Homo sapiens: one gene and its partner. The protein of the gene in region 2 purifies or fractionates together with the protein of the main gene of each other region. This does not show direct contact. Each region holds a gene or a part of one and is shown on either strand. Other genes may lie near its edges.

What was found.
Region 1: the proteins of NUDT9 (region 2) and WDR5B purify together in Homo sapiens (affinity purification with mass spectrometry; 2 studies listed by BioGRID and IntAct, with this or other methods). This does not show direct contact.

Annotation. Positions count from the first base shown.
Region 1 is NC_000003.12:122,403,590-122,420,702, reverse strand, and holds WDR5B (WD repeat-containing protein 5B), read left to right. Parts: upstream 1-4,640; 5' UTR 4,641-5,174; coding exon 5,175-6,167; 3' UTR 6,168-8,857; downstream 8,858-17,113. Other genes in the region: protein FAM162A, read right to left, coding at 10,872-10,964, 13,314-13,422, 16,340-16,445. UniProt on the Homo sapiens protein: May function as a substrate receptor for CUL4-DDB1 ubiquitin E3 ligase complex.
Region 2 is NC_000004.12:87,426,451-87,443,013, reverse strand, and holds part of NUDT9 (ADP-ribose pyrophosphatase, mitochondrial isoform a precursor), read right to left. Parts: intron 8,034-16,563; coding exon 7,794-8,033; intron 4,738-7,793; coding exon 4,642-4,737; intron 1,186-4,641; coding exon 1,099-1,185; intron 1-1,098.

The DNA of each region.
Region 1 (17,113 bases), on a different chromosome or scaffold from region 2:
TTTTCTCTAATTTTAAATTAATATACAGTCATTTCTGTGTTTTTTTGCAGAAAGTAAAATTACTCATTCTTATTCATATCCACTTAACCTGCAGAAGGCCAATGTAGTCCGCTGGGAGTCCTCAATAAGGATCACTGCTTTACCCATCACTTGGGCTGGGCATTATTAAGATACAGTGATGGGTAAGGAGAAAACAGAAACGCAAAAGACCGTAATGGGTGGTGAGAGAACAGTACCAGGTTTGGGAGAGACCTGCGCAGGCTGAGGTGTAAACTACCAGAGTGTGAAATGGTTGCAAGATTAAGTTACGATTATGAGGAGTGTCCTCTTGGGAAGTCAAAAGTAGTGTCTGCTGGGCACAGCCCCAGTTTACATTTGGAGATCAGCTAACACCTGTGAATTATTTTACTGCCCCCTTTCACTTTTAAAAATGTCCCAGTTTAGATAATGTTACGTGGCCACTCCATATTTATAAAGCCCAACTAGATTTTCATACATTGGCTAATGGTCTTAAGCAACTAGGTATACATAGTTCTATTAATGCTTGATATTGAGACTGGATTTGGTAGTCAAGAATTGCTATGAAGGATGTTGAGACATTCCTTAATGTGGGAATCACTCCCATGCCACGGTTTGGTCCAGCACACATACAAAAAAAAAATTGTTTTTAAATTTAAAAATTGCCCCATTTGTGGCAACACATCTGTTTAGATATTTACAATACTGAGGGGCAAGGGAAACACACCTTTAAACTATATTAAGATAAGAGACTTTCATTTCTTTTTTTTTTTTTTTTTTTTTTTTTTTTTTGAGACGGAGTCTCGCTCTGTCGCCCAGGCCGGACTGCGGACTGCAGTGGCGCAATCTCGGCTCACTGCAAGCTCCGCTTCCCGGGTTCACGCCATTCTCCTGCCTCAGCCTCCCGAGTAGCTGGGACTACAGGCGCCCGCCACCGCGCCCGGCTAATTTTTTGTATTTTTAGTAGAGACGGGGTTTCACCTTGTTAGCCAGGATGGTCTCGATCTCTTGACCTCATGATCCACCCGCCTCGGCCTCCCAAAGTGCTGGGATTACAGGCGTGAGCCACCGCGCCCGGCCTTCATTTCTAAGATGTCTGGGAAATTTAAAGAAATCTAGTTGATTTCTGTAGGGAGGAAACTTCCAAAGCACTTAGATGGTAAAGATTAAGGGCAGCAGAAATAGAAACTGTTAATGAGACCATGTAAGAAATTTTGCTTGGTCAACCCGGGCAATGTAGTGAAACTCTGTCTCTACAAAGGGTTGTTGTTGTTTTTTTTTTTTTTGAGATGAAGTCTCGCTCTTGTCCCTCAGGCTAGAGTGTGATGGCACAATCTCGGCTCACTGCAACCTCCGCCTCCTGGGTTCAAGCGATTCTCCTGCCTCAGCCCCCTGAGTAGCTGGGATTACAGGCGCCTGCCACCACGCCCGGCTAATTTTTGTATTTTTAGTTGAGAAGGGGCTTCACCATGTTGGCCAGGCTGGTCTAGAACTCCTGACCTCAGGTGATCCACCCGCCTCGGCCTCGCAAAGTGCTGGGATTACAGGCGTGAGCCATAGTGCCCAGCCAACAAGGTATTTTAAAAAGTAGCCGGGCATGGTGGCGGGTGCCTGTGGGAGGCTGAGGTGGGAGGATCGCCTGAGCCCTGGCAACGCTGCAGTGAACTGAGATGGCACCACTGCACTCCAGCCTGGGCGACAAGGGCAAAACTCCGTCTCATAAATAAATTAATAAGTAAATAAGAAACCCAAAATGCGTATCTCTTATTCTGCCACTTTGGATTTACCTACATGTATCAGTATTCAGCAAAACTCCGTCTCATAAATGAATAAATAAGGAACCCAAAATGCAAATCTCTGTTCTGCCACTTCGGATTTACCTGTATCAGTATTCCGTGCTCCTGCACCGAAATGTCGCTGATCCTCCCAAGCAAGTAAACTGAAAATCTTAGTTCTAATTTCCTAAGGACTACAATGTTAGGACTACATGTTAATATCAGAACATGAATGAATAAACAATAGAACATAACTAGTTATATTCGCCAGGCGCGGTGGCTCACGCTTGTAATCCCAGCACTTTGGGAGGCCGAGGCGGGCGGATCACCTGAGGTCGGGAGTTCAAGACCAGCCTGGCCAACATGGAGAAACCCTGACTCTACTAAAAATACAAAATTAGCCGGGCATGGTGGCGCATGCCTGTAATCCCAGTTACCCGGGAGGCTGAGGCAGGAGAATCGCTTGAACCAGGGAGATGGAGATTGCAGTGAGCTGAGATCGCGCCACTGCACTCCAGCCTGGGCAACAAGAGCGAAACTCTGTCTCAAAAAAAAAAAAAACTAGTTATATTCATAGCCTTGATTTTGTTTGCATATGTTCCTAATGCTATTTGTAAACAAATCCCAGACATCAAGAAATGGATTTTGTTAATAGGAATTTCTTCAGATTTTAGGAAAATCTGAAGAAAAATAACTTCCGGATCTTCCTATCAACACATCCTTTATTGTGTCCCCCCCTCTCTCTTGCTTGTGATAGCTGTGGTGGGCTAAATATATTCCAGCACTAATACCCTATCCTAGCCTTCATGTCAAGTGTTCACGATTCTTAAATTTTACTCTTCTAGTGCATACAACAGTTACTGGAAAATGCAGATTTAAATTATTTGAAACAATGATTAAATTCTGCTCCTGTGCTCCAAGGGGCTTTTACGTTACCTTTTATTGAGTTAATAAAAATGGAAATAGTTTTCAATTGGTGCAGTTTCTAAACTTCTCAGCAAAAATCACTAATCCAGGCTAATGGGAAGAGAAAAGCAGCAGCAGGGTTTAGTTAGAACTGAACTTTAAGATATGCTGAAGGAAAAAAAATTTCTAAAAGTGTTAACAAGGGGAGGTCCATGGAGACCTTAATAGCTAAAAACCGTTGTAATTTAATGTATAGAAATAAATACTCTAAACCATTTTAGAGTCTTCATTCTCAGGACTACCTCACTGTGTTTATACAGTTAATATGCACTAGCTAAGACTAAAGTATTTGTCCAATTCTTATTTAAATTTCCCCCTAGACTGGTAGGGTCTTAAAGTAATGATATTTTAACTACAGTCGGTTTATTACAGGTGACCTAACGGTGCCTGTTGTGCCTTATAAAGGCCAAGACTTTCAATTATCCCTAATAAGTATACAATAGGATACCCATTGTTTCCAAGTGCTTTTAAATTCTTGACGCTGATGAGACATTTGCATCGTGACCAGCCACCAGTAAAATCTTTTAAGCCACGTTTTTTCTGCTTTTCTTGGGCACTCTTTTTTTTTTTTTTTTTGAGACGGAGTCTCACTGTTGCCCAGGCTGGAGTGCACTGGTGGAATCTCAGCTTACTGCACCCTCCACCTCCTGGTTCATGCCATTCTCCCACCTCAGCCTCCTGAGTAGCTGGGACTACAGGCGTGCGCCATCACGCGCAGCTAATTTTTGTATTTTTAGCAGTATTGGTTGCGCCATGTTGGTCAGGCTGGTCTCGGACACCCGACCTAAAGTGTCCCGCCCGACTGGGCCTCCCAAAGTGCTGGGATTACAGGCGTGAGTGCTCGGCCTCGGGCACTCTTTACTGAGCAACAACAGGTTGGAGAAACTAGTAGGGCTTCCAGTTTTTTGGTAAACCTATTGTTTAAAAGTCTGCCTGGTCATCAGATTCCAGTCGTCTTGTTTCTGCCTCAGATGATAAAACTCTAAAATTATAGGATGTGAGATCTGGAAAATGTTTGAAAACACTAAAGGGGCACAGTAATTATGTCTTTCGTTGCAACTTCAATAGCATGTATATTTTACACACTTTCATGACCATTAATCATCTCCTAAAACTGGGGAAAGCTCTCTAAAACCTCCTTAAGAGTAACCTTATCCGTTACCCTATTCCACCAACCTCTTTGTCCTTTTCTGTTTCAAGCAACTTTGAGATACCGACTTCTCTATGGAAGCTTAAGCCGTAGATGCTAAAACAAACGTTTGCTCGTTACTCCCAGCAGAGCACCGGCTTTTAAAGGACCTCAACAGACACGTTTCTTAACCTTTACGAAACTTTTCCAGGGGAAACTTAAACCAGGAATTTTACAATCTGGCATAAATTCTGTCACCCGCCCCGTGACTCCATCGCCACACATGCCACCTGGCTCCACACCACAACAAACAGGAGGGAGCGGAACCCATGCAAAGCAGGAGCTTCCCCCGTTTCCGGCGTCTGGGTGGATCTACGTTAGCTGCCGTTTAGGCAGCTTACGCGTCAGGTGTGGGCCTAAGCCTGCAGCTAAGGTAGGCATCCGCAAATCTAGTCCTTCTCTGTGACAATTTCCAAAAAGAAATGGTTTTTGAAACAACGATCCACTGCTTCCCACACTATCCAGTTAGGTCCGGGACAGACCCTACCCAGCTAATGCACTCACCCAAGAAGGCAGTCGCTTTCGCATTTGAAGGGCGGGGCGAAAAAGACCGGAAATGAACATTGGCGACTTTTTTGCGCAGGCGCAGATGGCCGTCTCCCATTGGTCATCTCGGCTCGGTAGTGGTAGGAGGGACTTCCTTTGCACATGCGCCAGGCTGCTTTTCCGGCTTTGTTGGAGATTGACGCGGCAGTGCACACCTGCTGGTACGAGCAAAAGTAGCCGACAGGCCAGAGTTTCCAGTTTCGGTGGCTTCGTAGGCTTTTAGCTTCTGAAATCCGCTAAAAGCGGCGGTTCATTCATCTTCAAGTACCTAGCCTGACTGGTAGGGCTGCTCAGCATTCCGAAACATTTCGACCTGGGGAGGGGGGCGGCGGTGAAAGAATACTTTCTGTAGAGAGTGCCCCTCGCGTCGCCCCTGCTTTGAAGGCTTTATGTATTAACGGAATGCCGAACATTTGTGTCCTACTTGCTGACAGCGCACAGGATCCTTCTAACAGTATTTCTCAAGTACTTAACAAAAAGATGAAAACTTGAAGTCCAAGCCGTGCTGCTGATTCCGTCTCACAGTTTAAAGACTGTCCAGAAACTTTAAGCTTTCAAAACTGTACATTTTAAAATCCTGTGCGTTTATCTTCATTTTGCTGGGCAGAAAGCCAAAGTACTGGACTGCCTGGTTCAGGGCTGAACGCCTAGTACACCTGCTAACTTGGAGCTTCAGAGCCATGGCAACCAAGGAGTCAAGAGACGCCAAAGCACAGTTGGCCCTCTCCTCATCGGCCAATCAGAGCAAGGAAGTGCCTGAAAACCCAAACTATGCTCTCAAATGTACTCTTGTGGGACACACGGAAGCAGTGTCATCAGTTAAGTTTAGTCCTAATGGAGAATGGCTAGCAAGTTCTTCTGCTGATAGGCTAATCATAATTTGGGGAGCATATGATGGAAAATATGAGAAAACACTCTATGGTCATAATTTGGAAATATCGGATGTTGCCTGGTCATCAGATTCCAGTCGTCTTGTTTCTGCCTCAGATGATAAAACTCTAAAATTATGGGATGTGAGATCTGGAAAATGTTTGAAAACACTGAAGGGGCACAGTAATTATGTCTTTTGTTGTAACTTCAATCCGCCATCCAACCTTATAATCTCGGGATCTTTTGATGAGACTGTAAAAATATGGGAGGTGAAAACAGGAAAGTGTCTCAAGACTTTGTCTGCTCATTCTGACCCAGTTTCTGCTGTTCATTTTAATTGTAGTGGGTCCTTGATAGTGTCAGGTAGCTATGATGGCCTCTGTAGAATCTGGGATGCTGCATCAGGTCAGTGTTTAAAAACGCTCGTTGATGACGATAACCCTCCTGTCTCTTTTGTAAAATTTTCTCCAAATGGTAAATACATTCTCACTGCAACTTTGGACAACACTCTTAAACTATGGGATTATAGCAGAGGCAGGTGCCTGAAAACATACACTGGTCATAAGAATGAGAAATATTGCATATTTGCCAATTTTTCAGTTACTGGTGGAAAGTGGATTGTGTCTGGTTCCGAGGATAACCTGGTTTACATTTGGAACCTTCAGACTAAAGAGATTGTGCAGAAATTACAAGGCCATACAGATGTTGTGATCTCAGCAGCTTGTCATCCTACAGAAAACCTCATCGCATCAGCAGCATTAGAAAATGACAAAACAATTAAACTGTGGATGAGTAACCACTAATCCCTTTGAAAATCAAGTAGTAGAGCCAAGTTGGCCAAAAAACTTGGATATTTAAAAAGACGGTTTCTTTTAATTTTGGCAGTTTGGTATTTTAAAAATTGTCTATTGTTAAATTTTGAGATTCATACACTACATTTACAAAATGAGATAGTTGAAAAAGCACATCTAGAATTCAGCTTCTGACTACCAATCTTTTTTGAGCAACTTTTTGTAATTTTTATGGATTTATGTCACTTTTATTACAGGGATATATTGCATAGTGGTGAAATCTGGGCTTAGTATACCCTCACCCAAATAGTATACATTGTACCTAGTAAATACTTTCCCATCTCTCACCCCACTCCCACCTTTGAAGGCTCTAGTGTCTATGATTCTGCTCTCCACGTCCAGGTGTACACATTGTTTATCTCCCACTTACGAGAACATGTGGTTTTTGACTTTCTGTATCATTACTTCACTTAATGGCCTCCAGGTCCATCCATGTTGTTGCAAAAGATAAGATTTCATTATTTTTTTTTGGCTGAGTAGTATTCTGTGGTGTGTATGTGTGTGTGTGTATGCATATATGTGTATGTGTATGTATATAAGTATATACACCACATTATCCAGTCATCTGGATATGTATATAAGTATATACACCACATTTTCTTTATCCAGTCATCTCTTGATGGACCCTTAGGTTGGTTCCATAACTTTGCTATTACGAATAGTGCTGCGATAAACAGCACTATTATGAATAGTGCTGCGATAAACAGTGCAGGTGATTTTAAAATATAATTTCCTTTGGGTAGATACCTACTAGTGGGATTGCTGGATCGAATGGTAGTTTTTAGTTGGAAAATCTCCATACTGTTTTCCAGAGGTTGTAAAATGTACATTCCTCCCCACAGTGTATAAGCTGTGCCTTTACTCTGCATCTTTGCCATGATTCTTTTTGAGACAGAGTCTCTGGTGCCCAGGCTGGAGTGCAGTGGCACAATCTTGGCTCACTGCAACCTCTGCCTCCCGGGTTCAAGCAGTTCTCATGTCTCAACATCCCAGGTAGCTAGGATTACAGGCGTGCCACCATGCCTGGCTAATGTTTCTATTTTTAGTAGAGACAGGGTTTCACCATGTTCGAGGCTGGTCTTGAACTCCTGGCCTCAAGTGATCCACCTGCCTCGGCCTCCCAAAGTGCTGGGATTACAGGCATGAGCCACTGTACCCAGCCATTTTTTGACTTTTTAATAATAGCCATTCTAACTGGTTTAAGAGAGTATCTCATTGTGGTTATATTTTGTATTCCTCTGATGATTAGTGATGTTGAGCATTTTTTTGTGTGTGTTTGTTGGCCACTTGTATGTCTTCTTTGAAAACTGACTTCTAATCTTGAGGCCTATTAATAATTTCATTTGTCTGTCACTGGACAATTTCTCATTCCTCTCAGTGACTATCCTAGAGGATCAGTGTATTTGAGAAATATTTAGAAGTAAAGTTGACAGGACAGGATGATTGATTAAAAGAGGGGAGCAAGGGAATTTGAAATAATTCCAGGGTTTCTGGTTTGGGAGATCAGATGAACAAGTGCATAAGCCTGGGATGCTGGTGGAGGACTGGAGAGACATGGCAGATGCTACCTGCACACTTTTGGTAATATTCTGTGTGATGGGATATGAAATGGTCCATAGAAAAAAACCGGAAAAATACGCCAAGGTTAGGTTCATTCTAAGAGTCTAAAAATTTCAAAAACCAAAACAACATTATAAATGGTGTTTCTCAAGGACCTTTCACTACCTTTTTAGATTGTGCTTGTGATTTTCAGGCAAGCTAAATGTCTGATGAAGACTGCTCTTCTTTTGTTCTGTGTCTGACCTACTAATTCCTGCCCATGCTTCAAACTCAGTTCAGAAATCACTGAAGGAACCATCCACTGCCGGCCTGCCTGCAACCACAGCTGACAGCTGAGTTAGTTAGGTTTTCCTGTCCCTATTATTTACCAGTTTGTACTGAAATGCTTTCATGGGCTGTGCTTCCAGATTATGAGTTCTGTGGAATCAGGAAGTATGTCTCTGTATTCTTGTATTCTTTGGCTTTTTTGTGTAGTAAAGGGACTCAAGTAATGTTTGACAGTGAAGGATACAACTTCATTCCTTGCCTGCTTTGATAAATTTTAGTAATAAATTCCCAAAACTATCATGTTGATTAAAAATAAAAAGTAACCGTAACCTCACACATTAACTTTATTCAAACAAACAGCACTTACAGGAAATGTAAAGTAGAAAAAGATTTCTGCCCACTTTACCTACGGAGACATGATAAACACGCAAAAAAAACCTAGAAATTAAGCAAAAAATAGCACAATAATTTAACTGAAAGCAACAAGGGCAAAACTGTCTCCTTTTGTAGTTTGTGGTACCTTATAGTAGTGCTCATTCAGTTTCGTTTGCTTGATAAATCTGAGGACTATGAGATATCAGAGTTACTAGTAGGGTAGGAGTGCTGTAAGGGTACTGGGAGAAGTAGGATTAGTTAGGGGCAGATCTTGAATTCTGGCCAAGAAACTGATATTTAACCCATAAAGAGATAGTCACTATATGTTATCAAATAGGAGAATAACACAAATGAGAAATGACTGTTAATTCCTGATGCATAATAACAGTTGTGAGCTTTAGTTTAATGTAATATTTGTAATAAAAACGTTTGGCCAGGCACCATGGCTCATGCCTGTAATCCCAGCACTTTGGGAGGCCGAGGGAGGCTGATCACCTGAGGTCAGGAGTTTGAGACCAGCCTGGCCAACATGGTGAAACCCCCGTCTTTATGAAAAATACAAAAATTAGCCAGGTGTGGTGGTGCACACCTATAATGCCAGTTACTGAGGAGGCTGAGGCACGAGAATTGCTTGAACCCGGGAGACGGAGGTTGCAGTGAGCTGAGATCATGCCCTGCACTCTAGCCTGGGCGACAGTGCAAGACTGTCTCAAAAAAAAAAAAAAGGTTTCATTAAATTTAAGCTCATAAATGTTACTACATTTATAATGTAAATCTCCAAGATACAACACATTTTTGTTGTATTGCTCTATGAAGAGGATTATTTTTAAAAGAAATTCCACATTAAAATTTATCCACATTTAAAACATTGGTGTAGGTGTCCCAAAATAAGAAAAACTAATCTTCTAAAATGTACAAGAAACTATGCTTTTTGAAAATAAATTTGCAAGTGATAACTTGATACCTACAAAGAAGCTAAGGCCAAATTAAAGTATATAGACAGACATCATAAACATCCTCAGATAGATTATCAAGCTATAGGTAGTATGTTACATTTTACTGGGTATTTTATTTGGGAAGAAAGTGCCCAAACAGCTGCATGTATTTTTAATCTCTCTTATAACTCTCTGAGAACCAGCATGTTGGCATGGCTGTATACAGTAGTCACCCCTTACCCTCTGGGGATATATTCCAAGACCCCCCAGTAGATGCCTGAAACTGTGGATAGTACCCAACCCTGCATATACTATGTTTTTCGTATACATACATACCTATGATACCGTTTATTTTATAAATTAGGCACAGCACAATGCACTTTGAGGCAATTATTAAATAAGAGTTACCTGAACACTAGCACTGATTCCACGACAGCTGATCTCGTAACAGAGACGGCTAGCACATACAGTGTGAATACACCAGAGAGAGGGATGATTCACATCCCAGGTGGATGGAACAGATTGGCAAGAGATTTCATCATGCTACACTGAATGGTATGTAATCTATAACTTATGCATTGTTATAGGAATTTTCCATTTAATATTTTCAGACCTCAGGTAACTGAAACCACAGAAAACAAAGCCGTGGATAAGAAGGGACTACTATAATGGCTTGTCATCCATGAATAATTAAGAAGCATGTGAGAATCAATGTTTAAAATAGAAACCTGTATTCATACCTAAATATGAGACAACTCGATATCCCAAGGTCAAACTGTAAATGAGATATATATGAGGTGCAAATACTTCTAACAGTAATAATACATGAGATTTTTATAATTGAGAAATTTAGTTTCTCAGGTGGTAAGAAAACAGCCAGTTGAGAATTCTAAGGCATGAAGCTAAGAGGTGACTTGTGTTGACCCCAAGCAACTCCATGACGCTGGGATTTCTAAGTCCTTAGAAATTCCTGGCTGGACCTTGTCAGAATGTTTAAAAAACTATTCTCCTAAAAGCCTCCATCTGCCAGCATGTTCAAAGATTATAGAATGTGGTCTGGCTGCTTCTCAGCGCTCGCTCTATTAGGGGGCAGCCTCCCCACCAGTACACCAGGACATTTGAGAAGGCTGGCCCTCCAAGCTGCACCTGGGCCATATACTCAACTGGCCTTCCTTATCTCCTCAAAATGAGTTCGCCTGTGGAGAGGTTACTTTGATAATGGGAAGAGAAGTAAGATATGGTACCTGCTTCTCTGAAGAGTTGGTATTCAAGTTGAAATAAATTGTTTCATTTTTCTCCAAAAGGCTGAGAGGCTACACTTGACTTGGATCAAAACAATAAAACACAGTCATTATTTAAGAAAATTTATTTCTACTTCTACAGCAGAAATACGGAAATGGTACAGGTTTGGGCAAATCATACTTTATGAAATGGATCCTCATACCACATCCTTTTTAATACAGGCACGTTATAACATAATTCCTGGATTTTCAAAATCCAGCCAACACGGATACCTCTGCTACTCTGTTTTGGCCTTCATAGCTGCTTCCTCTTTCAGACGAGCTTTCTTTTCTAAGTTCAAGCTTGTTAAAGTCTCGTGTCTTTGGGCAGCCTAAAGCAAAACAGATTTGAACAGGTGATTTGTATGCTGGTCAGGGGAGGGTGTCTTTACCTTGCACTGATGACAGCAGGTTAACAGAGGCATGGAGGCATGGAGTCCTCTGCTGCTTGCACACTGAGCACGGCAGTTTCCTCTATGTGCTTCAACTTCCTCGTACGCTTCCAAGAACAGCAGCTCATCCACTCAAGCATAAGTAAGAAGTGCCACACCTCTCCTTTTTCTTCCCTTCTGGCCCCTTTCTTTCAGTCTTTATCCTCTCCTTTTCTCTTATACTTTCTTCTCATTCCACCCCACTTCTCTTTTATACTAAATACCTTCTCATTGCCATTTCTATCCCGTTTTTCTTCTTTCACTTTTCTCTGTTGCTGCCATTTCTCCTTCCCCAACTTATCTGCATACTCAGATCCTTCTAGTTCCTCACTTCTCTTTTACCAAAAACATTCAGCTTTGGGAATCCCAGACTTTACCCAAATACTACCATTGATGATTTCCACGAGTATCTGTACTACAATTCCAACCTTTGAGTGGGGGAGGCAACCGTCCTCTTCCCTTGTTTCCCTCCATGTAAACGGTCAGATTTCTATGAAGCTTACATACAGGCCAGTTTCAACACTTTTATACCAAATAGTGAAACTAGCACCCTAAGCTGATATTTCCTTCTATCTGTGTAATTTCATATGTAAAAGAATTGGGTATGTGGCGGGGGGTGGGGGAGCGGGGGGAGAAAGGGAAGTTGATGGTGAGAGCAAAATATACAATGGCTAATTTTTCTCTTCCAAATCACATTGAGTTCAAAAGTTCTCCATTCCAGTAGTATTTATGGAAACAGAAATTCCATAAAACTAAAATGTTACAATTTTATGGTAAAGAACAGGAGAAGAACTCTCTAAAATACACAGCATATACCCCTGGATGATGCTAGAAGAGATTCCAGGTGAATAATTTGCTTCTGGAGTATTTAAACTCAGCTAGTACAATCGAGTATACAAAAGCAATGCAAATTTCTCAGAATCCTAGAAGCTCACAGTCCTGTCCACATGTTTCTGCTGGTTTTAATCTGAGAACTATGCATGAGAGGTCAAAGAGGGAGACAAGAAAAAATGAAGTGGGGTGGGAACAGAGTTTTCAAGAGAACTTCACCCAGCTCAGCACATTTGCCCCTTCGTACTCCCATGAGGTCAGCCTAAAATGGTCAGTATTTCCATTTAACTGCAAGAATGAAGACAGCCAAAAGTACATTTCCTTTTACTCTGGAATTACTGAGGATAAGAAAGTCAGTTAAGAGTGCGTGTATAGAAGGACCTTTTTAGTATCTTAAAGTAGTTGTAAGACATCACTTTCCACATGGAAGCTGTGATATATAGAATTATACATGGTATTAAAAGAAGAATTTGACCAAAGCTGCTGAATATAAAAATAACTATGGCTTAATAGCAAGATAGTATAGTATGAGGTTTGGTAACCTGCAAACTTGGGTCTAGATTTTTATCTTGCCACTTGTTAGCTGTGTGAGTTTGGGAAAACTATTTACCTCTTAGGGTTATGGGGGTGATTAAGTGAGCTTAACAGTGCCTGTTACATAATAAGCACTCAATAAATGGGAGGAATTTTCCTATTACCTGAATTGGGTCTAGGTTCACACTGTGGCTCGTCATTAAGGAGATATGTGGCCTTGGGCAAGTTACTAAAGCTTTCTAAGCTATAGTTTTCCTCATCTATAAATCAGGTCCTAATAATACTTATCTTACAGTGTTTTTGTGAGGTTCAGATGAGATACCAGCTAGAAAAGTACCTGGAATGCAGTGAGTGTTCAATTAGTGATAGCTATTAATTATAATCTGTGCTAAAGATTTCTGGACTTGTATTCCTATGTACTGCTTAGGAGCTGTGGTCCTTAGACACATGGCCCTGTCTGGCTGAGCTTCAAATAAAGAACCCCGCTAAGAAAGCTCACCATGCTGAAGGCAGTTATGGTGAGGGTAAATACACTTGGGTACCAAGAGCACTCTGGAAATATGCAGTGGGTGATTAAATATGCCAGTGTCCTATTTCTTAATTTACATTATGACACCTGTCATCAGAAACACTTTTTAAATTTACATTACACAAAATGAATCTAGTCCTTCTTCACCACGCCAAAGTTAGGATTTGCTATCTATCCCCAAGGATGATATTCCAGGCTTGTTCCCAATATGTCTTATTTTTTTGCTTATCTTTTCTCATGTAATGTAGAAAGTAGCCTCCTCTTCTCAGAGGGTAAATACAAGGGTCAATCCCTGATTTACTCTAGGTTCTTGGTGGAGAACATACATACTGGATAGAGAAGAAACCCCTTCTCACCTTCTTGCCCTCAATAACCATGAAGATGCATCCTACCACCGTCAGGGCAATCATTAGATAGCTGATCTTCACTCGCATCTTGTTCTTTGCAGCATCAAGCATCTCCAACCTAGTAATACAATGAGATCATGAGAGAAAGTTATTAACTTTTCCCTTTCTGAAGTTGCTCAGGATAAAAGGCTGTGTATAAATTCAAAATGTAGTAGTGTCTATAAATATAAATAGGGAGACCTAGAGATCTCTTTAAAAAGGGCCTAGAGATCTCATAGGACTTTGGGGAGGATGAGGCATTTTTCGTAACTCATTTATGTATAAAATACAGGATAGCACACAATTAAGTACAAAAGAAGAAAACAAAAAGAGAAGTCAAGAACAAAGCCAAAAAAAAAAAATGGGCAAGGCATATTAATCTACACTTGCTATGGTGGACCCCAATTTTGGCTCTCAGGTTTCCAAGCAGCCTATAAATGCTAGAAGTGAAACAGTCATTTCTCCCTGAGGTTCTTAAGAAGACATTATGTGATGTAGTCATCGTCTGAAAACATCTCGACAACAGATACTACAATAAGCTTCATATGTTTCAACACAAAGCACAATTCAGAATGATCAAACATTGGAGAAAGTTAACCAATGTGCTCCATATACCCAGCTTTTTGCTCTCTGTCTTGAACCCAGAATAGATTTGAGAATATCTAAAATAGTAGGAAGATCCTTTAAGCAATGCTCCTCAATATTTATCTTTTTAAACAAATGTTTTGCTAAAATTGAGTGACAGTGAACTTGATATTGTGGTCTTTGGCAAGTGCCAAAGTGCAGCTCTTCTAACCTATCTACTGAATACAGACCCATGTGCCTTAAAAAAAAGTTGATGGTTGGTTCATCATTCTTGTGTGAAACCTAAGAGGCTTAATATAGAAGAGTCTAAAGGCCAATCTACCTTGGTGATTTTGCAAGTAGGCAGTGAGTCATGGTTCTATTTTTAATTTACTTTATTTAAAGAGATGGGGTCTCACCATGTTGCTGACTCAAAATCTTAGACTGAAGCGATCCTCCTGCCTCAGCCTCCTGAGCAGCCGGGGCTATAGGCATGCATTGCCACACCTGGTGGTCACGATTCTGTTACCTCGGTGTCTGGCAGAACCTCAAGGCAGGGGATGTGGAGCCCTTATGGGGCCCAGGATTAACTTATGGCCTTCTCAGTAGATGTGTAAATAGGAAGTGATTATCTCTAGATGATGGGATTGAAGTGCTTTCTTTCCCCTGAGATATTTAACATATATTACTTTTAAAATTGGGGAGGGGAGTACTTTAAAAATGCTTGGAAGGAGGCAAAGAGTCTGGGATGTTGCAGGTGGAAGGAGGAAGATGATGAAGCCATGTACAATGTGATGTAGGAGCTGGGACCTGTGAGGCAGCATGTGGACGGGGTTCTCCAGGCACTTAAGCTGGGCCTGCAGGCTGGCAGGAACCCAAGACAACTGCTAAGGACTGTCAAATTGGTCAGTTAGGAGCACCTGAGATTCCACTAACCACAAACTGACTTCCCATGTTGACGGTATTTTATGGGATTTGAAGTGCCATGATCCTCATGAAAAGTAATCCATTCCATAGGGAGTAATAGGAATGGGCAAGTTAAGCAGTGCCTGTTCAGAACTACCAGCACAAGGACAAATGGCTGCCCAGGCCCAGAAAAGACCCTTCCAGAGTGATTCGTGAGGTAGTATTTTGGGCCTGAGGGGATCTTGGAACCAACTATTAGGCAGACTGAGGAAGGTGTTCTATAGCAAAGCCTATACAGCATCTGTTAAGGCCATGGGTGTCTACCAGCTTATTTTCTGCTGGTATAGGAAGAATTAGGGCATAGGCAAGAACCTGATGTCACTGTTATTTCCAGTATTCTCTTATTTCCCAGAAGAATACATGACTTGAGCTAAGAAAAACCAGGGCTTTCCTGCTGAAATAATTCTAGTTAAAGTAATGTGCTATCAATTTGACTGGCAGAAGCAGAAAAGCTCTATTAAAGCTGTTGTAAACAGAAAGTAAATACTACATATTTCCCTGGGAAAGAAATCCTGAATGAGCTCAGATCTTTTTCAATCATGACTTGAAACCAGAGACCAGAAGATCCAGGAATAGTTTCTTGCTGACAGGGAACTTCCACGAGCTTTGTCTGAAGTCCCTGTCCCTGAATAGGATGATGCCTCACAGAGGAGATGACATCTATTTCTCAGAATCTCTTTTTAGCCAAGATGCCAGCCAGTCAGGGTCTTTAACATGAGGCTAGGGCACTGGTTCTCAACCAGGGGAGATTCCCACCCCGCTCGTGCCCCTTGGACATTTGGCAGTGTCTGGAGACATTTCTGGTTGTCAGCACTGCCGCAATGCTACGGGCATGTAGGGGGCAGAAGCCGGGGATGCTGCCAAACATCTTCCAACAAATAGGACACCCCCCTGCCACAAAGCATTATCAAGCCCCAAATATCAATAGTACTGAGTTGAGAAACTGGGTTGGAGGAACCTGCACTCATCATCTACAAACTCTGAAAAAGTTCCATGATCCCAGCCAAGATCCCTTCCCTTAGGTTTAAGGAAGTTGGTGACAGGAAGCACTCTTTCCTGAATTCCAGAATATTGCAATTAAATACTTTTACACCTAAGGTTGAGTACTTAAGTGGATTTGGGGGAATACAGTCATTGTCAATGGTACTTAATTTATATACCTAGATTAAAAACAAACTTTAAAAAAGTCACACTTCTGTAGCCAGGGGATGAAATCAAATAATCAATTGACTTCAGAGTACCTGACAGTTCTTCACCAGTCACTGTGTAACTTAACAATGATAAGACACAGGTTTTCTAGCATTGTTTATATTCCAAGTACTTACCAAAGATAAAACATTTGGAAAAGTGAAAAATGTTTTCAAATTTGGTTGAAAAGTTTTAAACAGTTGGAACTCAGAGGCATTGCTTTTCCCTTAGATCAGTGAGAAATGAAAGCTGCTTGTAATACTAAATTCAGCACTCACGAGACAGTCTCTGGGATTTCATCTTCCTTTTTGAAGCGACCTGACCATATGAGGATCTTTTTCTGCCAATCCGTAGGTTTGTGTAAAGGCACTCTGTTGTAAGTGCCTATGAGAAAAACCAGACAAGAAATTTTATGTGTTTGAGATTATAACTCTCAAATTTAACAACAGAAAAATGGTATTAGTGCTTTTTAACTAGTCACTAAACAGAAACACTGAGAAACCTCAAGTTAATTAGAACTTTATTTGAATGGAATTTCTTAGGATGCTTCATTTTCCAAATAAGATTATAAAATCCCAAGGAAACGGTGAGGAGCTTGTCTGACTTCAGCAGACTAAGAAAAAGTTTGTAAGGTACAATCAGATTTTACCAGATCTTGAATGTCAGGCTAAGGGGTTTAGACTTGATTGGGAACTACTGTACATTTTGAAACAAGGAAGAAACTAATGTTTTAGGAAGGCTTATTATCTGTACAATGGATGGAGACAGAAAAGGGGGACACGGTAGAGTGGGCAAAAAGTCCAAATGGGAGCCTGTAATACCATGGTGAGCGGATATTCTCTGAACCAGAGTTGTCGCAGTGGAAAGAGAGATGAGGTCAGTCTGAGGATGACTGAAAGAATGTGGAGACTGGTTAAGACAAAGAGGAAGGAGTCACGAAGAACCTCAAACTTGGATGACTAAGACAACAGCAGTATTGTAACTAAAAGAAGACGGGAAAAGACCCAGTTGGGGAAGGAAAGAGCATGAATACTACTTAAAGATTTGCTGAC
Region 2 (16,563 bases):
AGTGACTATGTTACTGGCTTATGTATTTACTATACTGTACTTTTTATCATTATTTTAGAGTATATTCCTTCTACTTATAAAAAAAGTTAACTGTAAAACAGCCTCAGGCAGGTCATTCAGGAGATATTCAAGAGGAAGGCGTTATTATCATAGGAGATGACAGCTCCATGCATATTACTGCCCCTGACAACTTTCCAGTGGGACAAGATGTGGAGGTGGAAAACAGTGATATTGATGATCCTGACCTTGTATAGCCATAGGCTAATGTGTGTGTTTGTGTCTTAGTTTTTAACAAACAGTTTAAAAACAAACAGAAGAAACAACTTTTTTTAAATTAAAAAAAGTGCACAGAATAAGGAGGTAACAAAAGAAACTATTTTTGTACAGTTGCATGATGTGTTTTAAGCTGTTACTATAAAAAAGCCAAAAAGGTTTTAAAAATGTTTAAGTTTATAAAGAAGTTACAGTAAGTTAAGGTCAATTTATTATTAACAAAATGAAAATATTTTTTATAAATTTGGTGTAGCCTAAGTATGCAGTGTTTATAAACTCTACAATAGGGGACAGTAATGTCTTAGGCTTTCATGTTCACTCACCACTCACTGACTCACCCAGATCAACTTCCAGTCCTATAAGCTCCATTCAGGGTAAGTGCCCAAAACAGGTGTATGGTTTTTTATCTTTTATATCGTGTTTTTACCTACTTTCCCTATGTTTAGATATACATACACTTACAATTGTGTTACAGTTGCCTATAGTATTCAGTACAGTAACATGCTGTACAGGCTTGTAGCCTAAGAGCAATAGGCTATAGCATATGGCATAGGTGTATACTACTTATACAATTGCACCTACACAATCTAGTTTTATGTAAATATACTCTATGATGTTCACACAACAACAAAATCACCTAATAATGCATTTCTCAGAACGTGTCCTCATTGTTAAGCAATGCATGACTGTATACATACATATATATACAAACACATACATATGTATATACACACAGGTATACATATATACACAAACATAGCTACAGTCTGCAATTTTTCTATCACTTAGCTCTTTGCTACTGATATGCTTTTTATTGGTTCTTACCTGGTTATAATGGGATCTGCAGCGTGATTTGGGCCCCATCGCCCCAAAAGCCCCCGGCCCACCAGTCCAGTCCGTCCTGCAGGATTTCTGGAAAAACAAAAAAAGCATAAAATCAATTGAATGTGTTCATCTTTTTAACCTGATTTGATATAACCCAAAAGAAGAGAACATAAGCAGTAAGACAGAATAAGTCCTTACAAATCCAATGGAACTATCACATATCTGGTGCTGAAGTCATGTATTTCATGACACTGCTATTTAATTTTTCTTTTGCGCATGTGATATGCTTTAAACTTGATCCAGAAAGAGGCTCTCATACCCCAAGTGGTTCTACAATGTGATGATTTGTTTCAGTTTTCACCTATACTCCTAAATTCAAACTGGAACGTTCCTGGTTTCTTCTGGAACACCTAGATCTCTCTTCACTTTCTCATTATTCTCATTTCCTACTCTACTCTCCTACAACCCTTCCTATTAAAATTGTCCCTGTTACATTAAATCCCTTTTTCCTCAATGGTTTCTGGATTTTTATTATCAATAATATATATTTGTAGCATATGATAAGGTATTAGTATTACTATTTCATAGATTTCAAGTAGACTAAAATACAATTTTATAAAAATGCCAACTATTTAACCTGATGCCACAATCCAGTGTTAAAAATTTGTCAGAGAAACCTATCAATACTCATGCCTGTGTCATTTTATTTCAGTAAACATTCTTTAAATGTTCAACTTTCATTATGTACTACTAAAATGTTCTAACATGTAATTCTACTTCATGGTGCTGTATCTCTTGCCCTCCCACTATATGAAAGTAAATAAACAACTTGCCAAAATTTCCCTTTTTGCCATCTCTTTTTATTCTTTTTTCCCAGTGACTGTTATTAAAATTGAATGAATTTTTATATTGTTTTTGTACTAGACTCAGAAATATTTCAGCAAGACTTGCAAATAGCAACAGAAAGAAGAGACAAGACACCTGCCCAGCTGACAATAATTCTTTCCAAATTCACAGGAGGAGGGGCAGAGTGGCCAGCAACCATATATATATATACATATTTTTTTTTTGAGACAGAGTCTCACTCTGTCACCCACGCTGGAGTGCGGTGGCATGATCTCAGCTCACTGCAACCTCCGTCTCCCGGGTTCAAGCAATTCTCCTGCCTCAGCCTCCTGAGTAGCTGGGATTACAGGCATGCACCACCACGCCCAGCTAATTTTCGCATTTTTAGTAGAGACAGGGTTTCACCATGTTGGTCAGGCTGGTCTCAAACTCCTGACCTCACGATCCACCCGCCTCAGCCTCCCAAAGTGCTGGGATTACAGGCGTGAGCCACCATGCCCGGCCTGCAACCATATTTTATTCCATGTAACCACACACCCCTGAACACAAGTGATCAAGGCCACCATAAAGAGACAGATTAGTTTGTATAGATGACCAAGACCATAACTTGGAAACAGGAAACTGGAATGGACACACAGACTATATTAAAACCTGAAAAGCACAGATGGTTATTCGCAAAGAGAGAGTAATAAGCCAAAAATATAGACAAAAGCATAAATGAAGCAGAGAGAGAGTCCTGATGGATTTCGAATTCCATCTTTTCCTCAAGTTAGCTGCATTTTTGCTTTGAGCTCCTTGAGACATTCCTATAGCATAGCCTTAAAATAAATTTTACTTTTGCTCAGGCAAGCTAAAGTTAGTTTCTATTAGTCAAAGAGACTTCATTAAAAGAACAATCTATCTTGCATTTCCATCTATATATCTTACCTATCTTTTCATAATATTTTTATAATTGTATCTATAAAAGAACCTAAGGAATCAGTCAAATGCAAGGAGAATTTGACTTAAAAAGACTCAATAACATAGAAAGGTGAATAAGTTATGACCAAAGAAAGAACTTAGCAAAACTGAAGGACCAGGTTGAGATGAGAGGAGTACTACCATTTCCTTGTCTTACAGGAACCAAGAATACAAAGTGTAACATTTTTATAAGATGATAACCATGATTTCAAATCTGTGATCCTTCTTTGGTTTTATTTGGTACATGCTAATTTTTACACTTCTTTCTAACTTTTTAATATGATTTGGCTCTGTGACTCCACCCAAATCTCACCTCAAATTTTAATTCTCGAAAATTGAGGGCAGAACCTGGTGGGAGGTGACTGGATCATGGGGGACGGTTTCTCCATGCTGTTCTCATGATAGTGAGTGAGTTCTCATGAGAGCTGATGGTTTTTTTGTTGTTTGTTTTTTTGAGATGGAGTCTCACTCTGTTGCCCAGGCTGGAGTGCAGCGGCACAATCCTGGCTCACTCCAACCTCCGCCTCCTGGGTTCAAGCGATTCTCCTGCCTCAGCCTCCCGAGTAGCTGGAATTACAGGTACCCGCCACCAAGCCCAGCTAATTTTTGTATTTTTAGTAGAGACAGGGTTCTGCCATATTGGCCAGGCTGGTCTTCAACTCCTGATCTCAGGTGATCCACCCGCCTTGGCCTCCCAAAGTGCTGGGATTACAGGTGTGAGCCACTGTGCCTGGCCAATCTGATGGTTTTATAAGGGGCTCTTCCCCCTTTACTTATTCACTCTCTGTCACCTGTTGCCATGTAAGATGTACCTTTGCTTCTCTCTTGCCTTCCACCATGACAGTAGGTTTCCTGAGGCCTCCCCAGCCATGCAGAACTGTAAGTTAATTAAACTTCTTTCCCTTATACATTACCCAGTCTTGGGTATGTCTATTTTTTTTTTTGAGATGGAGTCTCGCTCTGTCGCCCAGGCTGGAGTGCAGTGGCGCAATCTCAGCCCACCGCAACCTCCGCCTCCCGGTTCAAGCAATTCTCCTCCCTCAGCCTCCCGAGTAGCTGGGATTACAGGTGCCCGCCACCACGCCTGGCTAAATTTTTTATCTTTAGTAAAGATGGGGTTTCTCCATGTTGGTCAGGCTGGTCTTAAACTCCTGACCTTAGGGGATCCGCCCACCTCAGCCTCCCAAAGTGCTGGGATTACAGGCGTGAGCCACTGCGCCCGGCCAGGTATGTCTGTATAGCACTGTGAGAACAGGCTGATACACTTTTATAATATCTTAAGGAAAATGGATAATTTTTGAGTTGTATAGGAAAATCATTTTTTAAAAAGTATAGAAAGACCCGAATTATTGGGTTATCTTTATTTTTACTCTTACATGTTTGGATAAATTCTTACTTTAAGATACTATACCATTTAATAAATATCTGCTGAACAATTTTTCTTTCTGTTAATGTATTCAATTATTTCTGTTTCCAAGATACAATTACAAAAAGATGCATTCAAACGCTGCCTCTGCCACTTACTAGCTGTATACAAATTGCTTACACTCTCTTCCCTTATCTGTAAAATTCAATTAAAAATATCCACCAACAGGGTTATTGTGCAGATTTAATTACATCACATATGTAAATAAATTTGTACAACATCTGGCACATACAAGGATTTGATAAATATGAACTATCTTTTCTACTTTTTGGTGACTCATTATTGTAAGATGCTCTGCTCCCAGTACCTACCTCGGTCTTCCATTTTCAATCTCATACAGGCCATTCTTGCTCTTTCTCTCAACATGCCCATCCTTTTCGTTAAACTTGGGAGAAAAATTACTTTCACTGTAATGAGAATACCAATGTAAAATAAGAAATAATGATTCAAAACTACCAACAGCTTAATAATGAAAGTCAATCTGTTATCCATAAGAAGTATTCCTGAAACAATAAATTTTTAAGGGTTAGTTTTTTTTTTTTTTTCACAAATCCATCTTATTCCTTCAAAACAATTTTTAAGGCAAAAAAAAGTTTTAACCAAAACACCACACATTACAAAGATATATATTATTATTAAACTTACTAACCCCTCCAGGAAGGACTACCAGCAGAAGAGCTAGAGCTCCTACCTCATGCTACAAGAAGGTCTATTAGCAAGAAGGAATTGTTTGTGGGCACAATATGAAAACTATTTGCTCCCATGTAATTCCAAAAATAAGATTCCTTCTGATGATGTTTCTACTATTTCAAAATAATTTAAATTTCTTCAAATGCACACTGATTAATATTCTTATCAGAGTAAACCCACAAAGCAGTGAATTTGCCCCACAAGCTGCATAATAAATATGATGTAAATTAAAAACAGACATACTATGCTGGAAATGTTCTAGATCTTGATCTGGGCAGTGGTTTACAGAGCTATGTAAATGTAAAATTTTGCTGAGCTGCACACCTTCACATGTAAGAAATGTGCACTTTACAGCCAGGCATGGTGGCTCACGCCTGTAATCCCAGCACTTTGGGAGGCCAAGGTGGGCAGATCACAAGGTCAGGAGATCAAGACCATCCTGGCTAACATGGTGGAACCCCATCTCTACTAAAAAAATACAAAAAATTAGCTGGGCATGGTGGTGGGCACCTGTAGCCCCAGCTACTCGGGAGGCTGAGGCAGGAGAATGGCGTGAACCCAGGAGGTGGAGCTTCCAGTGAGCCGAGATGGCGCCACTGCACTCCAGCCTGGGCGACAGAGCGAGACTCCATCTCGAAAAATAAATAAATAAAATAAAAATAAAGAAATGTGCACTTTACTATATTTGTATCATGCCACAAAAAAAATTATTTTTTCTTTCTTTCTTTTTTTTTTTTTTTTTTTGAGATGGAGTCTCGTTCTGTCACCCAGGCTGGAATGCTGTAGCATTATCTTGGTTCACTGCAACCTCTAACACCCAGATTCAAGCGACTCTCCTGCCTCAGCCTGCTGAGTAGCTGGGACTACAGGAACATGCCACTATACCCAGCTAATTTTTTATATTTTTGGTATACACAGGGTTTCATCATGTTTGCCAAGCTGGTCTCAAACTCCTGACCTCAAGTGATCCGCCTGCCTCGGCCTCCCAAAGTGCTGGGATTACAGGCGTGAGCCACTGTGCCTGGCCCAACAAAAACATTTTTAAACAGACATAACTAAACTACTCTCCTCACCACTATAAAATCCCTGCCATAATTGCACTGACAGTGAATAAAGAGTTACATAGCACTGGATAGTTCATGGGCAGTTCTGAAACAGGTTTCACTTTTTTCTTGCTTTAATTCCATTGAGTGAGCAAAGAAATATCTGTGGTCTGTTTGGGAATAATTTCCAATTTCAATGATCCATACATTTTCTTAAGACTTCTAGCCAATCTGCCATCTAACATGCAAATAAAAAGAATTAAATGATAAAAACCATGAAATTATAAAACCAGAGCTGCAATGCCCTTGGGACTCTAGAGATTCACCCTTTTAAAAAAATCACCAGGCGTGCCGGCTCATGCCTGTAATCCCAGCACTTTGAGAGGCCAAGGCAGAAGGATCACCTGAGCTCAGGAGTTCGAGACCAGACTGGATGATACAGTGAGAACTCTTCTCTGCTAAAAATTTAAAAGTTAGCCAGGCATGGTGGCACACACCTGTAGTCCCACCTGCTCAGGAGGCTGAAGTGGGAGGATCACTTGAGCCCAGGAGATCAAGGCTGCAGTGAGCTATGATCACACCACTGCACTCCACCCTGGGTTAGAAAAGGAACATAAAGGGATGGGAAAAATGGGGAGATGATGGTCAAAGGGTACAAAGTTTCAGTTATGCAAAATGAGTAAGTTCTAGAGATCTAATGCACAGTGTGGTGACTACAGTTAATAATACTGTTCTTGTCCAGCCTGGACAATACAGTGAGACCCCATCTCTACTTAAAAATAAAATAAAATTAGCCAAGTATGGTGGAACATGCCCATAGTCCTAGCTACTCAGGTGGCTGAGGCAGGAGAATCACCTGAGCCCAGGAGTTCAAGGTTGGAGCAAGCTGTGATCACATCACTGTACTCCAGCCTGGGTGACAGAGAGAGAGAGCACCAGTCTCAAAAATAGTAATAATACAGTATTGTATACTTGAAACTCGCTGAGAGTGGATCTCAACTCTTCTCACTACACACACAAAAAAGGTAACCATGTAAGATTATTTTAAATGGCTTGATTGTTGTAATCACTTCACAATGTATATGTATGTCAAAATATCACATTGTACACCTTAAATATATATAGTTACTTGTCAATCATATATCAATAAAGCTGGAAAATAAAAAAGAAACATAAACATAAAATGTTAATCAATGCGGCACTTCTATGAATTTAGTGAGAGCCCCTTCTCTCTCATTCTCCCCCTCTCACTCCCCTTTATCCAACCCTTTTCTATTTTTTCACACTGGTTTATCATCATCCTGTTCTTAGTAACCTGGAGAATTTTCCGAAAAATATTTTCACAAGTCTAGCTATGTTGGAAAATAACCACAAAGGATATTCTATTGATAACCCAAATAGAACACATGAAAACAAATACCATCAGCTGTTATTTCAAAACAAATATAACAGTACCAGCTGTTATTTCATAACACATAGCTGATGCTATTTGTTATTTCAAATCAAAACAGATTTAACTATTTGGAAGTATCCTCATAAAACCCCCAAAAGAATAAACAAATATGAACTGTTTATCTTTGGCAAGAATTCAAGCAAATGTGGAAACTGAGTTATAACACAGCTAAGCATAGATTGAAATTATTTTCAGGTGTCAAAAAGATACTTTACAAATAAAACCATTACCTTCTCTAAAAGTCTTATTCCCAGCTAACGCTGTCTTATTTGCTCACCTGATCTGAGGATCTGCCCACCTGGGTCCAGCCAAGACAGAGACTGCAGTGTATTCCACAGGCTTATAGTCTTGCCACTCAACAAGCCAGCCCACTTTCTCATTAGGAACCTGGCTTCGTTCAACTTTTGAACCTGGGTAAGGAGACGTCCGAGCCTTATTGTGAGAATTTTCTTTGGAACCATTAGAACCAGACATGACGTTGGTATTAAGATGAAACCAAGAAGATGAAAACGAGTTTCTGGGGGAGAAAAAGAAAAACATTTTACATAAATACCAAAAATATATTAATTAAAGAACCTAGGCCGGGTGCAGTGGCTTACGCCTGTAATCCCAGCACTTTGTGAGGCCGAGGTAGGTGGATCACCTGAGGTTAGGGGTTCAAGACCAGCCTGACCAACATGGTGAAATGCCGTCTCTACTAAAAATACAAAATTAGTGGCATATGCCTGTAATCCCAGCTACTTGGGAGGCTGAGGCAAGAGAATCACTTGAACCCAGAAGGCAGAGGTTGCAGTGAGACATCGCGCCATTGCACTCCAACCTGGGCAACAGGAGTGAAAACTCCATCTCAAAAAAAAAGCAAAAAAAAAAAGAACCTAATTCAAAGACCCAAAAACATACTTTCCAATTTCAAAAACCTTTAAGAATCAGAAAATTCAAATATGATGCATATTAGTCTAAAGGTCCAACATCTATGAGAGATTATTTTCAAATATACATTTTTTTAACATATAGCTAAATCTTATTAGCTGGAACCCACTCACTGAATTTATTTTAGACAAAAAAAAAAAAAAAAGGACACAAACTTACTTGTGTGTTATCTGTTGTGGAAGGGGAAGTTTGTTATGAAAACTCAAACCATAAAAACAAGTGTAGGCCAGGTGTGGTGGCTCATATCTGTAATCCCAGCACTTTGGGAGGCTAAGGAGGGCAGATCACTTGAGGTCAGGAGTTCGAGACCAGCCTGCTCAACATGGTGAAACCCTGTCTCTACTAAAAGATACAAAAATTAGCCAGGTGTGGTGAATCCCAGCTACTCGGGAGGCTGGGGCAGGAGAATTGCTTGAACCCAGGAGGCGGAGGTTGCAGTGAGCCGAGATTGTGGCACTGCACTCCAGCCTGGGCGACAGAGCGAGACTCCATCTCAAAAAATATATATACATATAAAAGAAAACTGTTTAAAGTCTACGTAAAGGAATATATTTTTTAAAAATCATCTATAGTCTAACATACACATAAAACGTATGGCAAAAATGGTTCAAAGGAAAAACAGGAAAATAGAAATTATTGAAAAATTTTTTACACTGAAAATGAACTAATGTAATATAATTTGAAGGTAGACTGTGGTAAATATACAAATTGTAACCTTTAGAGCAAAATTTAAATAAAATATACAGGCATGAAATAACTGGATAGCATATGCAAAAGAAAAACCAACTAACCTTCACCCTAACCACACAGCATATACAAAAATTTTTCATATCTCATCTTGCCTAAAAAGTTAAATGACTTCTAATTATTCTTAAAATACGAATTCTTGATGACCTTAAATTAGGACATCTCAAGTGGGAAAGGAGATTCTGAGGACATGGTAAAATTATGATAGCTCCTTTCCCCTGCTCTCACAATACCAGTCAATTTGCCCTTCTTAAGACAAATGATTGACGGGGCAAATATCCACTTGACCAAGGTTGTGGACTAAGTCAACAGCATGTGCCTCCTGATCTCATACAGTGAGAAGCATGCAACAGTCATTTGAGGTATTTCTCCCAAAAATATATGACATGAATCTGAACATTAGGAAACACAAGACAGACCCAGGTTAAGAGACATCTTACAGAATAAAGGTGTGTACTCTCTAAATTGGTAAGGTCATGAAAGATAGAGAAAGGTGCAGGAACTCTTCCAGATAGATTAAGACTAAAAAGACATGACAATTAGAAGCAATCAATGATCTTGGATGGGCTGATGACCATAAAGGAAAAAATAAACATTGCAGGATAGGTAGTAAAGTTTGGATGGGGTTGTATAAATAATTTTAAAAGGTGAATTTTTTTAAAGTATCTATTTACTCCCAACAAAGAAAAACCCAGGACCAGATGGCTTTACTGATAAATTCTACCAAACATTTAAAGAAGAATCAACACCAATATTCCCTCAACTCTTCCAAAAACGTGAAGAGGAAGTAAACACTTCCAAACTCACTCTGAGGCCAGCATTATCCTGATACTAAAGCTTGACAAAGACACTATAAAAAAACTACAAACCATTATCTTTGATTAATACTGATGTGAAAATCCTCAACAAAATAATAACAAACAGAATTCAACAGCACATGAAAAGGATTATATGCCATGACCAAGGGAGACATTCTTGGAATCCAATGATGGTTCTATATAATGAAAATCAATCAACATAATGTATCACATTAACAAAATAAAAAAAAAAAACACAATCTTCTTGATTGATGCAGAAAAATTATCTAACAAAATTCAGCACCCTTTCACGATTTAAGAATATTCAACAAACTAGGAATAGAAGGAAATTACCTCAACATAATAAAGGCCATATATGAAAAGCCCACAGCTAATGGTGTGAAGGTGAAAGACTGGAAGTTTTTCCTCTAAGATCAGGAACAAGACAAGGATGTTCACTTTAATCAATATAATACTGGAAGTTCAGCCAGAGCAATTAGGAAAGAAATAGAAGTTCTAGCCAGAACAATTAGGAAAGAAAAAAAAAGGAAAAGGTATCCACATTGGAAAGGAAGAAGTAAAACTGGTTGAGCATCCCTAATCCAAAAATCCAAAATCAGAAATTTTTTGAGTGCTGATATGATGCCACAAATAGAAAATTCCACACCTGGCTTCATGTGATGGGTCACAACCAAAACTGTTTCAGGCACAAGTTTAAAATACTGTATAAAAGTATCTCCAGGCTACCTGTTTAAAGTATATATAAAACATAAATGAATTTTGTGTTTAGACTTGAGTCCCATCTCCAAGACATCTCATTATGTGTATGTGAATATTCCAAAACCTGAAATCCAAACCGCTCTGGTCTCAAGCATTTTAGATAAGGGATACTCAACCTGTATTTACACATCGCATGATGTTTTATGTAGAAAACCCAAGATAATTCATGAAAAAACTGTTAGAACTAATAAATGAATTCAGCAAAGTTGCAAGGTATGAATCAACACACAAAAATGGTTACATTAAAAAACACTAACATGCTGGGTGCACTGGCTCATGCCTGTAATCTCAGCACTTCAGAAGGCAGAGGCTAGTGGATCACCTGAGGTCAGCAGTTCAAGACCAGCCCGGCCAACATGGCGAAACCCTGTCTCTACTAAAAATACAAAAATTAGCCGGGCATGGTGATGTGTGCCTGTAATCCCAGCTACTCGAGAAGCTGAGGCAGGAGAATCACTTAAACCCCAGAGGCGGAGGTTGCAGTAAGCCGAGATCAAGGCTCCATCTCAAAAACAAACAAACAAACAAAGCACTAATAATTAACAATCCAAAAGGAACATTAAGAAAATTCTACTTACAATAGCATAGAAAAGAATAAAATACTTAGGAATAAACTTAAGGAAGCAAAACTCTTATACACTGAACACTACAAACTATTGCTAAAAGAAATTAAAGACACCAATAAATAAAAAGACATCCTATGTTCATTGACTGGAAAAAAATATTAAGATGTCAATACTACTCAAAGTTATCCGCAGATTCAATGCAATCTCTGTCAAAATCCCAATGATGTTTTTCCAGAAAGAGAAAACTCTACCTTAAAATTCATATGGAATCTCAAGGAACCCCAAATAGCCAAGACAATCTTGAAAGGGAGAAACAAGTTCAAGGTCTCACACTTACTACACAGCTATAGTAATCACAACACTGAGATACTGGCATACAGAAAGACATATAGACTAGTGGAATAGAAGTAGAACCCAGAAATAAATCCTCACAATAATTTTTGACAAAGGTACCAAGACCATTTCAACAGGGAAAGGGCAGTCTTTTCAACAAATGGTGCTAGGAAAATTGGATATTCACATGCAAAAGTAGTATGAAGTTTGACCCTTACCTTTCACCATATAAAAACATTAATTAAAAGTGGGTCAAAGACCTAAACATAAGACCTAAAATGATCAAAATCTTAGAGGAACACATGCTGACAAAATTTCACGACACTGGATTTGGTGATGATTTTCTGGATATGACACCAAAAGTACAAGCAACAAGAGAAAAAATTGGTAAGCTGGACTATATATTACATCAAGATGAAAAACTTCTGGGTATCAAAAGACACAATCAAGAGAGAAAAAGCAACCCATGGAACAGGAAAAGATACTTGGTAATCACATGTCTGATAAGGGGTTGGTTATATCCAGAATATAGAAAGAACTCCTACACACAACAACAACAAAACAACCCAATTTAAAAACGGGCAAAGGACTCCAATAGACATTTCTCCAAAGAAGATATACAAATGGCCAATAAGCACATGGAAAGATGCTCAATACCACTAATTATTAGACAAAAGCAAGTCAAAACCACAATGAGATACTACCTCAGACCCATTAGAATGACCACTATCAAAAAAACAATACAGAAAATAAGTATTGGCAAGGATGTGGAGAAATTTACTTGCAATAAAAAAAATGACATCAAACAATTTGTATTTCTGTAAGGCATTGCTGAAAAAAGATTCAGTAAAGTCCTATAATATGGTACTATTTTTATAAAGCAATGACATAAAAAATAAATAAGCACATTTCAGTGCATGTATATAATGTATTAGTTTTCTACTGAAGCCACAACAAATCACCACAAATTCAATGACTTAAGACAATAAAAATTCATTGTCTTACAGTTTTGTAGGTTAGAAGTCCAACACAGGTCTCACTCAGCTAAAGACAATTTATCAGCAGGGCTGCATTCCTCTCTGGAGGCTCAAGAGAAAAATCCATTTGCCATACTTTCCCAGCTTCTAGAGGGAATCCTCATTCCACCTGCATTCTGTGGCTCATGGCCCCCTTCCATCATCTTCAAAGCCAGCAACATAGAAATCTCTCTGACCATGTATTAGTAATCATATCTTTGATCACGGCCAGGCCATTTTTTAAGGACTCTCAATTAAATCAGGCGCACCTTCCAGGATGCTCTCCCCATCTCAAAGTCCTTAACCTTAACCACCTCTGCACTCTCTTTTGCTATGTAAGGCAACATATACACAGGTTCCAGGTATCAGGATGTGGACATACTTGGGGGGCCATTATTCTGCTTACCACAACTGTCTATACTATTTATTATATAAGCATATATAGAAGGAGCCATATAATCAGGTTCTTAATATGGGCTAGGAAATAAGGTGCTGATGTGAAGAGAAGTAGAGGCAAACAGAAAGAGGGAAAAGAAAGGAAGGAGAACGAAAAGGAAAGGGAGGGGGAAAGGGGAGTACAGGAGAGAAGAAAAAGGAGATGAGGGGGAAAGAAGAGACAGTGGCAAAGATGGGGGGGAAACGGGGAGAGAGAAAAGGAGAAAAGGAAAGGGAGTTGCAAGAAAGGATAAGAAAAAAAGAACAAGAAAGAAAAACAAATTTAAAAAGGATAAGAAAACTGAAGGAAAAGGAAACAAGGAAAAAAAGAGAAGGAAAAAAGACTACCCAAATTTACCAAATAAAGTGAGGTATGCCTGATCAAATTTATGCAATTAGGGCAAATTACATAATTATATATATATAAAAAGAAACTTCTCAGTGGGGCACAGTGGCTCACGTCTGTAATCCCAACACTTTGGGAGGCCAAGGCAGGGGGACTGCTTGAAGCTAGGAGTTCAAGACCACCCTAGGTGAGACAGTGAGACCCTTATCTCTACAAAAAATTTTAAAAGTTAGTCAGGCATGGTGGTATGTGCCTGTAGTTGCCGCTACTCAGGAAGCTGAGGTGGGAGGATCTCCTGAGTCCAGGAGGTCAAGGCTGCAGTGAACCATGATCACGCCACTGCACTCCAGCCTGGGCAACATAGTGAGATCCTGACTCATTAAAAAAATAAGAAACCTTTTTAATTAAAATTCTTAACCTGACTTACAAGAACTGCTTCCTAGACTTCCTCCTGGTCCCTCTTCGGTGTATATAGTGTAAACATGTACCTACCATTAGGTATCATACGCAAGTTTCACTGCCCTAAAGGCAGTGAATTTTACGTGTACAATTCCATAAGAGTTGATGCGTGTCATTATACATTTGTCCAAACCATAAAGTACAAGACCAAGAGTAAACCCTGATATAAACTACAGGACTTTGGGTGATGAAGCGTCAATGTAGGTTCAATTTTAACAAACGTATGGCTCCGTGGCTCTGTGGGGATGTTGACAATGCGGGAGGCTATGCATGGGTGGAGGTAGGAGGTATACAGGATATCTCTTATCTTTAGCTCAATTTTGGTGTGAACCTAAAAACTGCTCTAAAAAAATGACTATTTTTTAAAGTCCTCTGTGCTACCCCAATTCATCCAACTCCTGATCTTTTTACTGTCTCCATAGTTGTGCCTTCAAGAATGCCATATAGTTGGAATCATACAGCCTTTCCTTCAGTTAATAATATGCATTTAAGATTCCTCCATGTCTTTTCATGGCTTGATAGCTCATTTCTTCTTAGCACTAAATAATATAATATCCCATTGTCTGGATGTACCGCAGTTTATTTATCCATTTACCTACTGAAGAACATCTTGGTTGCTTCCAAGTTTTGGCAGTTATGAATAAAACTGCTATAAACATCTGTGTGCAGGTTTTTGTGTGGACATAAATTTTCAATTCATTTGGGTAAATACCAAAGAGTGTGATTGCTGAATTATAAGTGTTGAGTTCTGTAAGAAACTGACAAACTGTCAGTTGGATTTTTAACTGGTTTCATTCTTTCCTATTCTTGTGTGTCTACAGTTTTATATACTGTTCAAGCTGTTCTCTTTCATCACATTTAAAGACTCTGAAACAATTACTATTTCATTTTACACTCACTTTACATCTGCAAAGTGTGGTAAAACACCCAAAAATGAGGGAAAACCTAACTAATAAAGAAGTTAATATCCCCAGACGGGCTGAAAACTAGTGTAACGTGAGCGAGTATTTGATTTGTGACTAACTTTACTAAAAGCAGTAGGTTCATTCACTTTCATATTATGATTATGACAACTTTCTTGCCTCAGCTGCCACAGTTTAGGAAACCTACACAATGAATATTCTGAAAATAAAGTCTCCCTCACTCACCTTAAACCCATACTCAATAAAAAATGAATACATATATGAAACACATTTATCAAAATTAGCAAACAGACTTCAGGTGTTTTAAAAAGCAAAATTTTAACATATGGAACCCTAATCTCTAATTGAACCCTATCACAAAATGAGTTATGTTTCATGGTTTGGGAGTAGGGCAAGAAAAAAGTTAAGGCCATTAATTAAATACCAAACAGGAAACACTAATGCTGTTCCACTCCATCCCACCCACGTACCAAAAATGTTTAAATAACTTAAGGCTCTTTGTTCCCTGATTTAGCAATAAAATGTTTATGGAATTCCACAAATCTACCTACTTGACAAGACAGATTTACACACTGGATTATTTACTTTTCTAAAACAAATTTAATTGTGCAAAAATTCAGGCTATACATCTTATCACATCAAGAAGTGCTAACACTGCTATCTATATATGCTATTTAAATGTGATACACTGTAAGGTACCAGAAAAAAGAATACTTGTAATACACACATATACAGCCTTGACCTTTGTATTGTATTATTGAACAAGTGCAAGAAATATATTTGGCCTAGCAAATGGGAACTAAGTAGCTGATAAAGTCCATTTACATGGCAAAAACCAATTCTTAAGACTGGCAAACTTTTAAAAATGCAATACTGACGTGGTGCTTTGAAATAAAATCTGCAACAATCATTGTCATAATCACACCTAAATGTATATAGTGATTGCTATGTGCAAGACAGTGTTCTAAGCACTGTAAATTAACTCACTTGATCCTCACAACTGAGTTCAGGTACTTTTTTTTTTTTTAACTTTTTTTTTTTTTTTTGAGACAAGGCCTCACTCTGTTACCCAGGCTGGCATGCATTGGTACAATCATGGCTCACTGCAATCTCGACCTCCCAGGCTCAAGCAATCCTCCTACCTCAGCCTCCTGAGTAGGTGGGACTATAGGCATATGCTACCACACCTGGCTTTTTTTTTTTTTGGTTTAGTTTTTTGTTTTTTTTTTTGGCAAGGGAGTGGTTTGGTAAATCAGGTAGGCTGAGCGACTCCCAATTTTGTTTATTTTTTGTCAAGATGGGGTCTCACTCTATGTTGCCCAGGCTGGTCCTGAACTCCTAGGCTCAAGCAATCTTCCTGCCTCGGACTTCCAAAGTGCTGAGATTACAGGTGTGAGCCTCCACACCAGGCCATATTATCCTTTTTCAATTTTTTTTTTTATAAATAAGAACATTAAGGCCAGGCGCAGTGGCTCACGCCTGTAATCCCAGCACTTTGGGAGGCCGAGGCAGGCGATCGCAAGGTCAGGAGTTCAAGAACAGCCTGGCCAACACAGTGAAACCCCGTCTCTACTAAAAATACAAAAAAATTAGCTAGGCATGGTGGCAGACGCCTGTAATCCTAGCTACTCACTAGGCTGAGGCAGGAGAATCGCTTGAACCCTGGAGGCACAAGTTGCAGAGAGCCAAGATTACACCACTGCACACCAGCTGGG